Regions from separate parts of the Homo sapiens genome. Here regions 1, 2 and 4 are each linked to region 3. The links come from fine-mapping of genetic effects on gene expression. A gene starts in region 3. Each other region holds a variant in brackets. All regions are shown on one strand. Distances are between the middles of the regions.

Region 1 (2,684 bases), 88 kb before region 3:
ATTCCTCCACTGCAGAAGCATGCTGACATCAGCCTGACCACTGCACTATCAATTAGTCCCTTATGGTCAGTCCATAGCAGGGAGAATCTATGGATTTACAAGGACAAGAAAGCAAAAGGAGACTGCAGACAGGCAACACGAACAGAAGTTTGAAAGAAGAAATGAAGGAGAAGTCAGCCGAGTGGAATTCCAATTGGCTACGGAGGGAGATGTTAATTCATGCCCAGGACCCCAGAGAGGAGGCTCCGGGAGGTGAGGAACAAGTTGTAGGGTTGGAAAAAAAAAAAAAAAAAAAAAAAGCATGGCTGTAATTCTGTATAAGGTTACATGGAATCAACCTAAATGCCCATCAATGACAGATTGGATAAAGAAAATGTGGTACACATACACCATGAAATACTATGCAGCCATGAAAAAGGAGATCCTGTCTTTTGTGGGAACATGGATAGAATGCTGCTCTCCCCTTAGTCCTCCATAGTCCACCCCTGTGCCAATTCCACCCAGACAGCTGAGTACCTCCCACTAGGGGCTCCAGGGCTGGGGTCCCAGGCACAGAAAAGGGCAAGGGGTAATGGGAGCAAAGGAAAGTTCCATGAAAGTCTAGATCCCAGATGGAGAGTCCTGAGCTCCTTCATGAGGCTCAGCGCCCAGCATGCACACAGCAGGCCTAGACTCCCAGCAGAATACTAGAAGTTTCCTCTCTAGGAAAACTGAATAGCCCTAGAGGAAAGATCTATAGATATGGGTATTTGGGCTTCACTTCATATATTAGTTTGCCATTACAAACTAATACAGAGGGGGGTGTATTGAACACCAGAAATTTATTTTTTCACAGTTCTGGAGGCTGAAAGTCCAAGCTGTCAGCAGGGTTGGTTTCATTCTGAGACGTCTCTCCTTGGCTTGTAGATGGCTGTATCTTCCAAGTGTCTTCACATGGTCTTCCCCCTGTGTGTCTGTGTCCTAATCTCCTTTTCTTACGAGGACACCAGGCATATTGGATTAAGGGCCACCCCAGTGACCTCGTTTAACTCCCATTTTCTCTTTCAAAGCCCTATCTCCAAGTACAGACACATTCCGAGATACTTGAGGTTAGGACCATAAAAGTATGCCTCTGCTGACAGATAAAATGAACTACACCCCATGGCTATTTAGGGTGAGTTAGAGCAGAACCAGGTGGTCATGGCTGGGTGAAGGTTCAGTCGCATACACTGTGTTCTCAGAAAGATGTTATGAA[A/G]GTCACGTACAATGTGTTCTCAGAAAGATGTTATGAAAATATCACAGGACCTCCCTTTCTACAATCAAGCCAAACCAGTTTCTGTTGTTGGTGCCAAGATAAACTGAAGCAAGAATTCCCCCACCTCCCAACTGGCCTTTTGAAAGGTCTAACAGAGACTTCTGGTTTGGGGCTTGGAAACCAACCAATCAGAGCTCACCCGCTCCATCCAGTCAGGGTTCAACCACATCAACCAGTCATGATTCGGCTGTGTGACCAACCAGAACTAAGCAAGTCCAAATCCTTCATTTGCATAAATGGACTTAATTGGGAACCTCAGCAGGGAGTTTTGCTATAAACCCTGAACGTATTTGTTCTCTGGAACTCACCTTTGTTTTACACCAAAGACGTGGCTCCCTTGTTTGCAAACTATTCACTGGAATGAAGTCTCTTTCCTCCAAATTACTTTTCAGAGAACTTAGGTTCACAGGACTCAACAAATGAATTTTGGAGGGACATAATTCATTTCATACACCCAGCAAAACAGCCATCCACCTGCCAGAGCACCTACCAGTGAGAACCATTGGCTTCCTCTTACCACCACAATGCACAGAAAGCTACCAAACATATTAGTGCCTTCCTCATAAATACAAAAGAACAAAGCATCACCAGACATTTGAGGAAAATAAAAATATGAGGACAGACATAAAAGCCTACAAATAGGTAAAATACACTTGGAGCAAGGAGTAGACAGACCCCTTGCAGAACACAAGGGAAACCCCCTTATCATCCTCAGAGAATCGAGGGAAAGATACCATATTCATTAAACAAGAACAGGATACTTAGAAAAAGGAAAAGTCAGGAAATAAGAAAGGCTCTTGGAAATTAAATATAACAAAAAATTTAAAACTCCAGAAGAGTTGGAAGATCAAATTGAAGAAATTTTTCAGAAAATTAAATTAAAAGACCAAAAAAAGTGAGAGAATAAAAAGCAAGTGATCAACTGAGATCTAGCACCTGACACAGAAGCATTCCAGAAAGAGATAACAGAGATGGCAGAGGAAACAAAGGTTTAATTTTAAAAATCTACTAGAACCAAAGATTCTGAGAAAGTAAACCAAAAATAAGAAAGAGATACACATATTGGTAAAGGCTAGAATGAGGCTGGTTCTTGGGCTCTTCATCACTCTTAATGACAATGCAGTAGACAGGAGAGATTGTTTGGGTGTGAATCTGACTCCACCCCCTTGGAAGAATTACCCTCAAGTTATTTAACCTCTCTATGCTTCACTTACCTAATTTGTAAAATGAAAGCAAAAATAGTGTTTACCTAATAGAGTTGCTGCAAATATCATATGAGATGGGACATCTGAGGTGACTGTCACGTAGTACCTGGTCAATAAATGTGAGTTATTGTCACTACAGCAGTCCCCAACCTTTTTGGCACCAGGGACAAGTTTCATAGAAGATA
Region 2 (2,684 bases), 110 kb before region 3:
AAAGGTGTGATTCTGATTTTACAAGGCCACCAGCTATGGGGTCCAGGCAAAATCTCACTTATACAGGGTAGGAGTGCAAAGATACCTTTGCAAAAAAAAAAAAAAAACCTGCTCTCTTGCTCTCTGCAGACCTTTCCCAATTCACACCAGTCTTCCCCTATTGATTTCTCCTGTTTTTACTGAGTGATCTCTGTGCTCCTCTTTAAAAGAATTTTCCACCTCCAGAAGCTAATTTGAAATACTAATTTACACACAGAACTCACCTTCATTATCTCTAGCCTTTGCCCATTAAAGAGACAGAAAAATCTAAACCAGTTCAGTCCCCAGTGTCCACAGGGCGTTAACCTTCAGAGACCCAGAACTAGAGGTTGCACATACGCCCAGAGATTGCTCCCAAGTCTCCACTCTTTCACAGCAAAGCATTATTTTTTCACCTAGATTTGGCCAGACATGGCCAAATTTTCCACCTGCCTCCCCCTTTTCCAAACATCCCAAGGACAACAAATGTGCCTGGAATGTCACCATGAGCATAGACTACTCCATACCTGTGCCCTTCTTTACACCCGTGGATGACAGGCAGCACAAAGTAAAAATGGCAACAACATTCTGCCTCACAAAATTAGGATGGTTTTTTAAAATAGTCTCTCTTTTTAGCACACTCTCTTAGCACGGCCCCCACAGAATCTTCCCACTTGGTATAGATCATGTGTGGGGTTAGAAAAGCCCACAGACTTCAGTCATATTATTGTCGACAATGACAAAGGCTCCACCAAGCGAGTGGATGGAGGACGAGGGCAGATGGGTGCCAAAGACTTAGAACGTAATTATTTCAACCACTTATTATCCAGGAGCCAAGAAAAGAACACAGATACCAAGAGGCATTTGGAAGGTCCTAGAGTGGGGCTAGGTGACATCGATTAATTGCTTTTCCTGAGAAACATCCATTTCTTCCTAGGGGTCCTTCCCAAAAGACAGAGGTTTTTTTTGGTTGATTTTTTTTTTTCTGGAGATAGGGTCTCGCTCTGTATCCCAGGCTGGAGTGCAGTGGTGCCATGATAGCTCAATGCAGCCTTGAACCCCTGGGCTCAAGTGATCCTCCCGTCTTGGCCTCCCAAGCAACTAGAACTACAGGTGTGCACCACCATGCCCAGTTAATTTTTAAATTTTTTTGTAGAGATAAGGTCTCACTATGTTGCCCAGGCTGGTCTCCAGTTCCTGGCCTTAAATGATCCTTCCACCTCAGTGTTGCAAGCATGAGCCACCGCACCTGGGCAACTTTTAATCCAAGTATTGGGAATGGGAGGGATCCCAGTCTCTGCCTTCATTCTAAAATCTTCATTTCCACAAAGTTGTCACGTAATCTCTCTTCATTCCTCACCATAAGCCTAAGGGGTTGGCATTTTTATTATCTCATTTTATTTACAGATGGGGATAAAGGAGTGGGATGACTTGCTCAAGGTCACACAACTAATAAAGGGCAGAGTTGAGGTTCAAACTCAGATCTGTGTGTCTCCAAAGACTCAGCTCCTGACCATCAGGCTCTCTTCTCTCTTACTGGAATGCTCCCAGAAAATAAAAGAGCCGTGAAACCAAACGCTACAGTGTTAGGTGT[C/T]AGAACTCCAAATGCCAGGAATTACTGAAATGTCTTAGTGTCAATCAACCCTTAATGACCTTGGCAAGCATTCTCCCTGATGACAGCAGACCCAGAGAGAATGAGCAAGTGGGAGCCAAGAAGGATGCATTGAACTAGAAGAGTTCAGGAGGTGCCTGTGCAGCCAGGCAGGATCTGGACGGAGCAGAGCTGGGCATGCAGTAGCAGCAGGCGGATGCTGGAGCAGTTCTGTATCCACACTCTCTTCTTAACTGCTAAACTGCTCTAGTCACTCCCTTCCTAAACACAGGCACAGAAAACGCCACCTCTAACCCTGCACCTCCATCTCCCTTTCCCCAGTTCTCAATCCAATTTCTTGGCATAGTCATCCACATCGGTTCCATTTTCCCATTTTCTCATTTCACACCCCACCCCACTTCAATCTGGCTTCCACAAACTCTTGATCCTGCCAACGACATCATGACCTCATCATGGCCAAATTCAATAGACTTGTTTCAGTCCTTTTATGAACAGACATTTTTCATTTTTGCACAAGTTTGGCCGTTGTTTTTTCTCATTCCTCATACTATCTGCCCCCAAATGTGCTGTTTTATGAGGTCTCAAAAAGGAAAATAAGAACAAGATCGAAGGAAGTTAAAGGGCTGGATGCAGCAGCACCCACCTGTAGTCCCAGCTACTCTGGAGGCCAAGATGGGGGGGTCACTTGAACTCAGGAGTTTGAGTCCAGCCTGGGCAACTTAGCAAGACCCCATCTCAATAAGAAAAGAAAAGACAAGAAAAGAAAAGAGAAACAATAGCAAAGGAAGTTGAAGGATTGCATATTTCTGCTTGTGGAAAAGAAACCTTTAGTAGAATTAAGGTCGCCCAACATGTTATACATCATAAAGCAAGCCGGAATTATATTAGACAAGAATGATGAGCAGACACTGAAATCATTGAAGAGTAGATGTATTAGTCTATTTTCGCACTGCCATAAAGACATATCTGAGACTGGGTAATTTATAAAGAAAAGAGGTTTAATTATAAAGAAAAGAGGTAATTTATAGAGAAAAGAGATTTAATTGACTCACAG
Region 3 (2,684 bases):
GACAGATTCAGACAACTGTCACTAATGGGATGCCACATCTCTCTGTGCTACATTCTGGAAACTTCGCAGGCCCACCCTGAGCTTTAACAATCGCCCCTCCGCAGCCCCCAAGGAGAAACACAGGCGGCAGGAAGGGAGGAGTCCTCATTCTTAGCTGAGCAGCTCGCCTCATAGACAGATGACATATTCCTCCCATATACTACCTAAGCGCATTAGCTCCGCGACCTGGGGCCTTGACTTTGTCTGCAGACATCCAAGCCCTCCAATCTCCCAGGTTCCCTACTGGTACCCCACCAAACGCTGGGCTCTAAGACTATTTCCTCCTACACGTCTGCCCGCGCGCCTCCAGTCCCATGTGGCCCCTCCACTAGTTTCTGCGCTCGGGCTGGAGTCGCCAGGGAATGATTTCCAGTCCGCACGCGGGGACCGGGAGCCAACTGTACTGACATGTTTCCAGGATAAAACCAAATTTGCAGGTGGGGCACAGAAAAGAATCAGGCAAGTTGTTCTTTCCAGCAGCCCCGGCCATCTGCCCGAAACGGGGCAGGAAGGGTAAGAAGGAGCGCGCGGGAGCCAGGGTGTGCCGGCTCCCAGGCACAGGGCGCAGCGCGCAAGGACCCTGGGGCTCACCCTGTGCCCGGCCCGCCCGCGTCGAGCCCCGGAGGCGCCGGCGTGCGTCCTTACCATTCAGCTGCCGGTACACGATGTCCTCCAGCAGCGACAGGCGCTTCAGGACCGCATCCTGGATGGGGCTGGCGCTGTGCGCGCTGAGGTTGGCCACCTCGGCGCGCGGCCGGATCTCGTGGAAGGCGTCTCCGCTGCGCACCGCGATGGGCCGGCACTTGGCCAGGAAGAGCACGAAGCCGGCTACCGCGATCAAGTTCAACACCAACAGCACTTTGACTCTTCTCAGTGAAGCCATCAAACAGCCCGGCCGGCCCTCGCCCCGGACCTGCGCCCCCTCGGGCTCCGGCGAGGCGCGGGGCAGCCAGGGGCCGTGCAAGCCTCACACACCAGACGGCCGGCAGGGATCCAAGCCCCTGCTCGTCCCACCTCAAGGATGCTCGGGCGGCGGAGACGGCTGGGAGGTCGGATTGGTGGTGGGGAGAACGGAATCGCTCACATGGAAGTCCTCGCTCTGCAGAAGTGCTCCCCGAGACGCCTGCTCAGTCCACGGCGCACGGCCCCGTCCAGGCGTCTCCGCGAAAGGCCAGGGATTTGAGGGTTTCTCTTCTGCACCAGCAAGTGGTTCGCCTCTGGACCTCTAGCCGCCGGCGCCGCGGACTCCGAGGCCGGCAGGCGGGGCTGCCCGGGAGGCACAGAGGGAGCGGCGCACAGGTGCCGGACTCAGGGATCGCCGCCCGCCCACGGCGGAGCGCGCCGCGCCTGGGGCCGCACAGCCTCCCACCTTGGCCCGCAGGCGGCCGTCGCGGCGCGCCACCCGCGCTCTTCAGCGGAAGACCCGCTCCCCCGGGCAGGCGCCTTTGTTCCGCTCACCGACCCGCTCCATCGCGCCGGGCAGAGGGGAAGCCCGCTCGGGGAGCCCGCATCCTCCAGGCTCCGCAGTCACGCTCAAGTCTCAATTACTCTCAAAGTGGGGGCAGCACTAGGGGGCGGGCGCCGGGCCGAGCGCTACGTCCTCTCCGCCCCCCGCGCGGAGTCCACCCCACCCCGCCGGCAAACTCACCAGCGCTCACAGCGCCGCCGGCTCCCGGACACGTTCCAAGCCCCCAAACCGCGCCGAGAGCCTTCGGGGCCTTCAGGGCACACCGGCCTGTCTCGGAGCTGGCGCGTCGCGAGGCTGGCCGGAAGGAGTCGGACCTCAAAAGTCACAGCAGTTCTCTACCCCCTCCCAAAACGTCGCGGGCAGCGCGGCGGGGAGGTACGCGTGCCGAATCACCCTCCGCTCGCCAGATCCGGCCGCGCGGCTCGTCCCGCGCCCCCGGGAGCCAAAACGCCGAGTCTCCCAATTGGCGGACGCGGTGACACCGCCGCTGCGGCACCGAGAGCCACACAGCCCCGGAGCTGAGGAGCCCGGAGGGGACGCGCAGGTGGCGGCGGAGGGCGGGGCGCGGCCCGAGGGGAGCGGCGGCGGCGCCAGCTCCTCCTCCGCCGCTCTTCGCCACCCTGTCCCCGAGAGGCTGTCGGCGGCCGCCGCCGCCGCCCGCAGGCTGCCGAGCGCACAGCTCCCCGGTTCGCCGACTCGTGCGCGCGCGCACCCGGGCAGGGCGGGGGCTTCTGGAGAGTGGGGACCGCGCGGGATGGAGGCAGTCAAGGCATGCTGGCTGCGGCCGGCGCTGGAGGGACCCTTTAGTTCTCAGTACTCCCTGAGCGGGCGGGTTCGTTCCATCCCGGTTGGCGATGAAGACATCCTTTTCTGTGTGCTCGCGGCTCCGCGCTGCGTGGCCAGGAATGGCTAGAGGGAAAATCTGGCCTGGAGGCTCGGATTCTGAGACCTTCGGAGCCAGGCCGGGCGTGAGCGGGCTTGGGGGGGTTCTCTGCGTGCAAGAATTCTAACCTCCCCAGTCACTGCTTCTAGGCCCACCCGCTGCTCTGTTCAAATTTTATTATAAGAAGCATATTCATTTGGCTCCTGGTTTTCCACTACCTCTTCCTCTTCCCAAAACCCAGGAACTCGAAATACTGGAATTCAACGCCCCCCCACCCCGGTTGATCCATTTAAT
Region 4 (2,684 bases), 360 kb before region 3:
TAACCCCCAGTACCCTGGAATGTGATTGTATTTGGAGAAAGGGTCTTTAAAAAGATAATTAAGTTAAAATGAGGGTATTAGAGTGGGCCGTAATTCGGTGTGCTCACTGTCCTTAAAAGAAGAGGAAATGGACAGAGACACACCCAGAATGTGACTGAGGAAAGACTGTGAGGCCCCAGAGAGAAGACAGCCTTCGACAAGCCAAGGAGAGAGGCCTCAGAAAGAACCAACGCTGCTTGCATGCTCATCTCGGATTTCTGGCCTCCAGAGTTGTGAAAAAATAAATGTTTCTTGTTTAAACCACTTAATCTATGCTATGGCACACAGTTTGCACAATGTGTGTTATGGCAGCATTAGTGGATTAGTGCACAGAAGAAGGTCAGCTCATTGCAGATACAAATGTCAAATGTATCCAGTCCTGGCTCCCAGTTAGAGGATGAGGACCCACATCTCCCTCCCTAGACAAATTTCCTAACTTTCAGATCATTTTCCTAACTTTCAGATCATTTTCTTCTTTTAGAGAGAGAGATTCAGGGTCTCACTGTGTCACCAGTGGCTTGATCATAGCTCACTGCAGCCTCAAAGTCCTGGGCTCAAGTGATCCTCCTGCCTCAGCCTCCTGAGTAGCTGGGACTACAGGTGCATGCCATCATACTTGGTTATTTTTTTTTTTTAATTTTTGTATAGACATGGTCTCGCTACTTTGCCCAGGCTGGTCTCAGACTCCTGGCCTCGAGCAATCCTCCTGCCTTGGCCGCCCAAAGTGCTAGGATTACAGGTGTAAGTGCTCCGCCCCCCGCTCCCCACCCCACCCCATCCGGCCCAGGTCATTTTCAGTGATTGATATTTAGGCCGGTTCAATTGAGAACACTGAACTCACTCTGTTTTCATGGCTCTTATGCTTCCTCAGGGCAGCTGGGGGCTTAGGACAGGAAAGAGGGTGCTGTCTGTTTCTGTAGTGCCTTCCTCCTCACCCTCCCTCATGGTCTCTCTCCTCCACTCCTTTCAGGTTGGGCTTCGGGGAAGGAGGGCAGGTGGAAAGGAAGGCGGAGATCATTTCTATGTCACTGGACGATGTCTGTGCGGAGAGGGGTCTCTGTCCTCATTTTGACTTCCTTTGGTTCAACCTGTGGCTAGTGACCTCACCAATACGTGAGGTCCACCAAACAGGTCCTATGCCCTGCTGTTTCTCTAGAAAGATGCTCCCCTCAAATGCTAAAGATGTCTCCCCACCCCCACCAGAGTAAGACAGCCCGGTCTCCAACTGGCCCACTGATGCTTTGAGCCAGCACAAACTCTGGGGCCTGGCTCCCAGCTGCTGGCCCCTTCTGCCACCTGGGGATTCCCTTGATCCCCCGGCCTCCCCACTGCAGGGTCCTTCACATTCAAGTCCTGGGAGCTGCTGAAGTCCTCTTCCCTGTGCAACTAAGACAGGGCAACTAAAATAATAGTACATTGGGGCTGTTCTTGTCTCTCTAAGTCTCGACCATCTGTAGGACGAAAAGAGCACATGGGTTCCCAGTGCTTTCTCTTCCTGCTGGAGCCCCCACAGATGGTGTTCCCATGCCTTCTGGCCTTGCCATTCAATATCAGCAACAGCAGGGGTGGGCAGCAGCGGACATCACGAACCTTGGCAGGCTGGACTCTCAATATTCTTTGCTTCTCAAGGACATCATTTACATC[T/C]GCCCTGGTGGCACCTGCTGATCCCTGGACTTCCCATTTTTATCAGTCTCTAGACCAAAATCAGATACTCCTGGAGTCCTCTCTTCCCTACCCTGCAATTCCCTATACAATTGGAGACAGGAAGGGAAAGTGGCCATGATATGTAGGAAAGGCATTATTACGATGCCCAATTCAAGCAGAGGAATGATCAGCCTCTACATGTGACCATCAAGCATCCTCCAGTTACTGGGAATGAGCCAAGGTATAGTGCTCCCATTCCAGGCCGGGTCAGGAGATCAGTCATTAGGGGCCTGGCCACTGGGGATCAGACCTCGGCCCTGCACTTAAATTCAGCTCTGTTGCCTACTAGTCCTGGGCATGCTATCTTAACCTCTTTCTGCCTGACTTGTAAAATAAAAATAATGATAATAATAATGCCTCCCCACCGAGGTTATTTTGATTAATTATGTTACTAATCCATAGACAGATGTTAGCAGCACAATGCCTGGCACACATTAAGTGCTCAAAAAAGAAAACTGCTATGGTTGTCATTGCTATTATCACAGAATATGGAGTACAGTGTCTTTGCTTGTCTTCTGATATGGCTTGGCTGTGTCCCCACCCAAACCTCACCTTTTCTTTTCTTTTTTTTTTGAGATGGTGTCTTGCTCTGTCACCCAGGCTGGAGTGCAGTGGCACAGTCTCAGCTCACTGCAGCCTCTGCCTCCTGGGTTCAAGCATTTCTCCTGCCTCAGCTTCCCAAGTAGCTGGGACTACAGGTGTGCACCACCATGCCCAGCTAGTTTCTGTATTTTTTTTAGTAGAGACAGGGTTTCACTATGTGTTAGCCAGGCTGGTCTCAAATTCCTGACCTCAGGTGATCTACCTGCCTCAGTCTCCCAAAGTGATGGGATTACAGGCATGAGCCACTGCACCTGGCCCCAAATCTCACCTTGATTTGTACCAGGTGGAGACAATTGAATCATGGGGGCAGTTGCCTCCATACTGTTCTTGTGGTAGTG

Direction of the effects. Alleles are on the strand shown, and positions count from the first base shown. SD is a standard deviation of normalised expression in the study named. Not every link is listed here.
In carriers of allele G in region 1, the expression in testis of the gene that starts at base 1,581 in region 3 tends to be higher than with A alone (moderate effect, 0.61 SD a copy in GTEx).
For the expression in skeletal muscle of the gene that starts at base 1,581 in region 3, allele C in region 2 goes with a lower level than allele T (moderate effect, 0.57 SD a copy in GTEx).

What was found. PIP is the estimated chance that this variant, and not a neighbour inherited with it, causes the effect.
Region 1: its variant is fine-mapped to the expression of GALNT17 in testis (GTEx, PIP above 0.99).
Region 2: its variant is fine-mapped to the expression of GALNT17 in skeletal muscle (GTEx, PIP above 0.99).
Region 4: its variant is fine-mapped to the expression of GALNT17 in spleen (GTEx, PIP above 0.99).

The regions. Positions count from the first base shown.
Region 1 is chr7:71,218,999-71,221,682 of GRCh38, reverse strand. All of the region lies in intron 1 of GALNT17 (polypeptide N-acetylgalactosaminyltransferase 17), which reads right to left. Among named protein-coding and RNA genes, the nearest start is that of MIR3914-2, 87 kb to the left of the region's middle. The variant A/G (reference allele first, on the strand shown) is at 1,235.
Region 2 is chr7:71,243,272-71,245,955 of GRCh38, reverse strand. The region is part of intron 1 of GALNT17 (polypeptide N-acetylgalactosaminyltransferase 17); the gene reads right to left. Among named protein-coding and RNA genes, the nearest start is that of MIR3914-2, 63 kb to the left of the region's middle. The variant C/T (reference allele first, on the strand shown) is at 1,613.
Region 3 is chr7:71,131,041-71,133,724 of GRCh38, reverse strand. It overlaps GALNT17 (polypeptide N-acetylgalactosaminyltransferase 17), which reads right to left and starts at 1,581. Exons shown (of 11, transcript NM_022479.3): 1 at 685-1,581. The coding sequence starts at 922.
Region 4 is chr7:71,494,908-71,497,591 of GRCh38, reverse strand. The region is part of intron 5 of GALNT17 (polypeptide N-acetylgalactosaminyltransferase 17); the gene reads right to left. Among named protein-coding and RNA genes, the nearest start is that of MIR3914-1, 190 kb to the right of the region's middle. The variant T/C (reference allele first, on the strand shown) is at 1,684.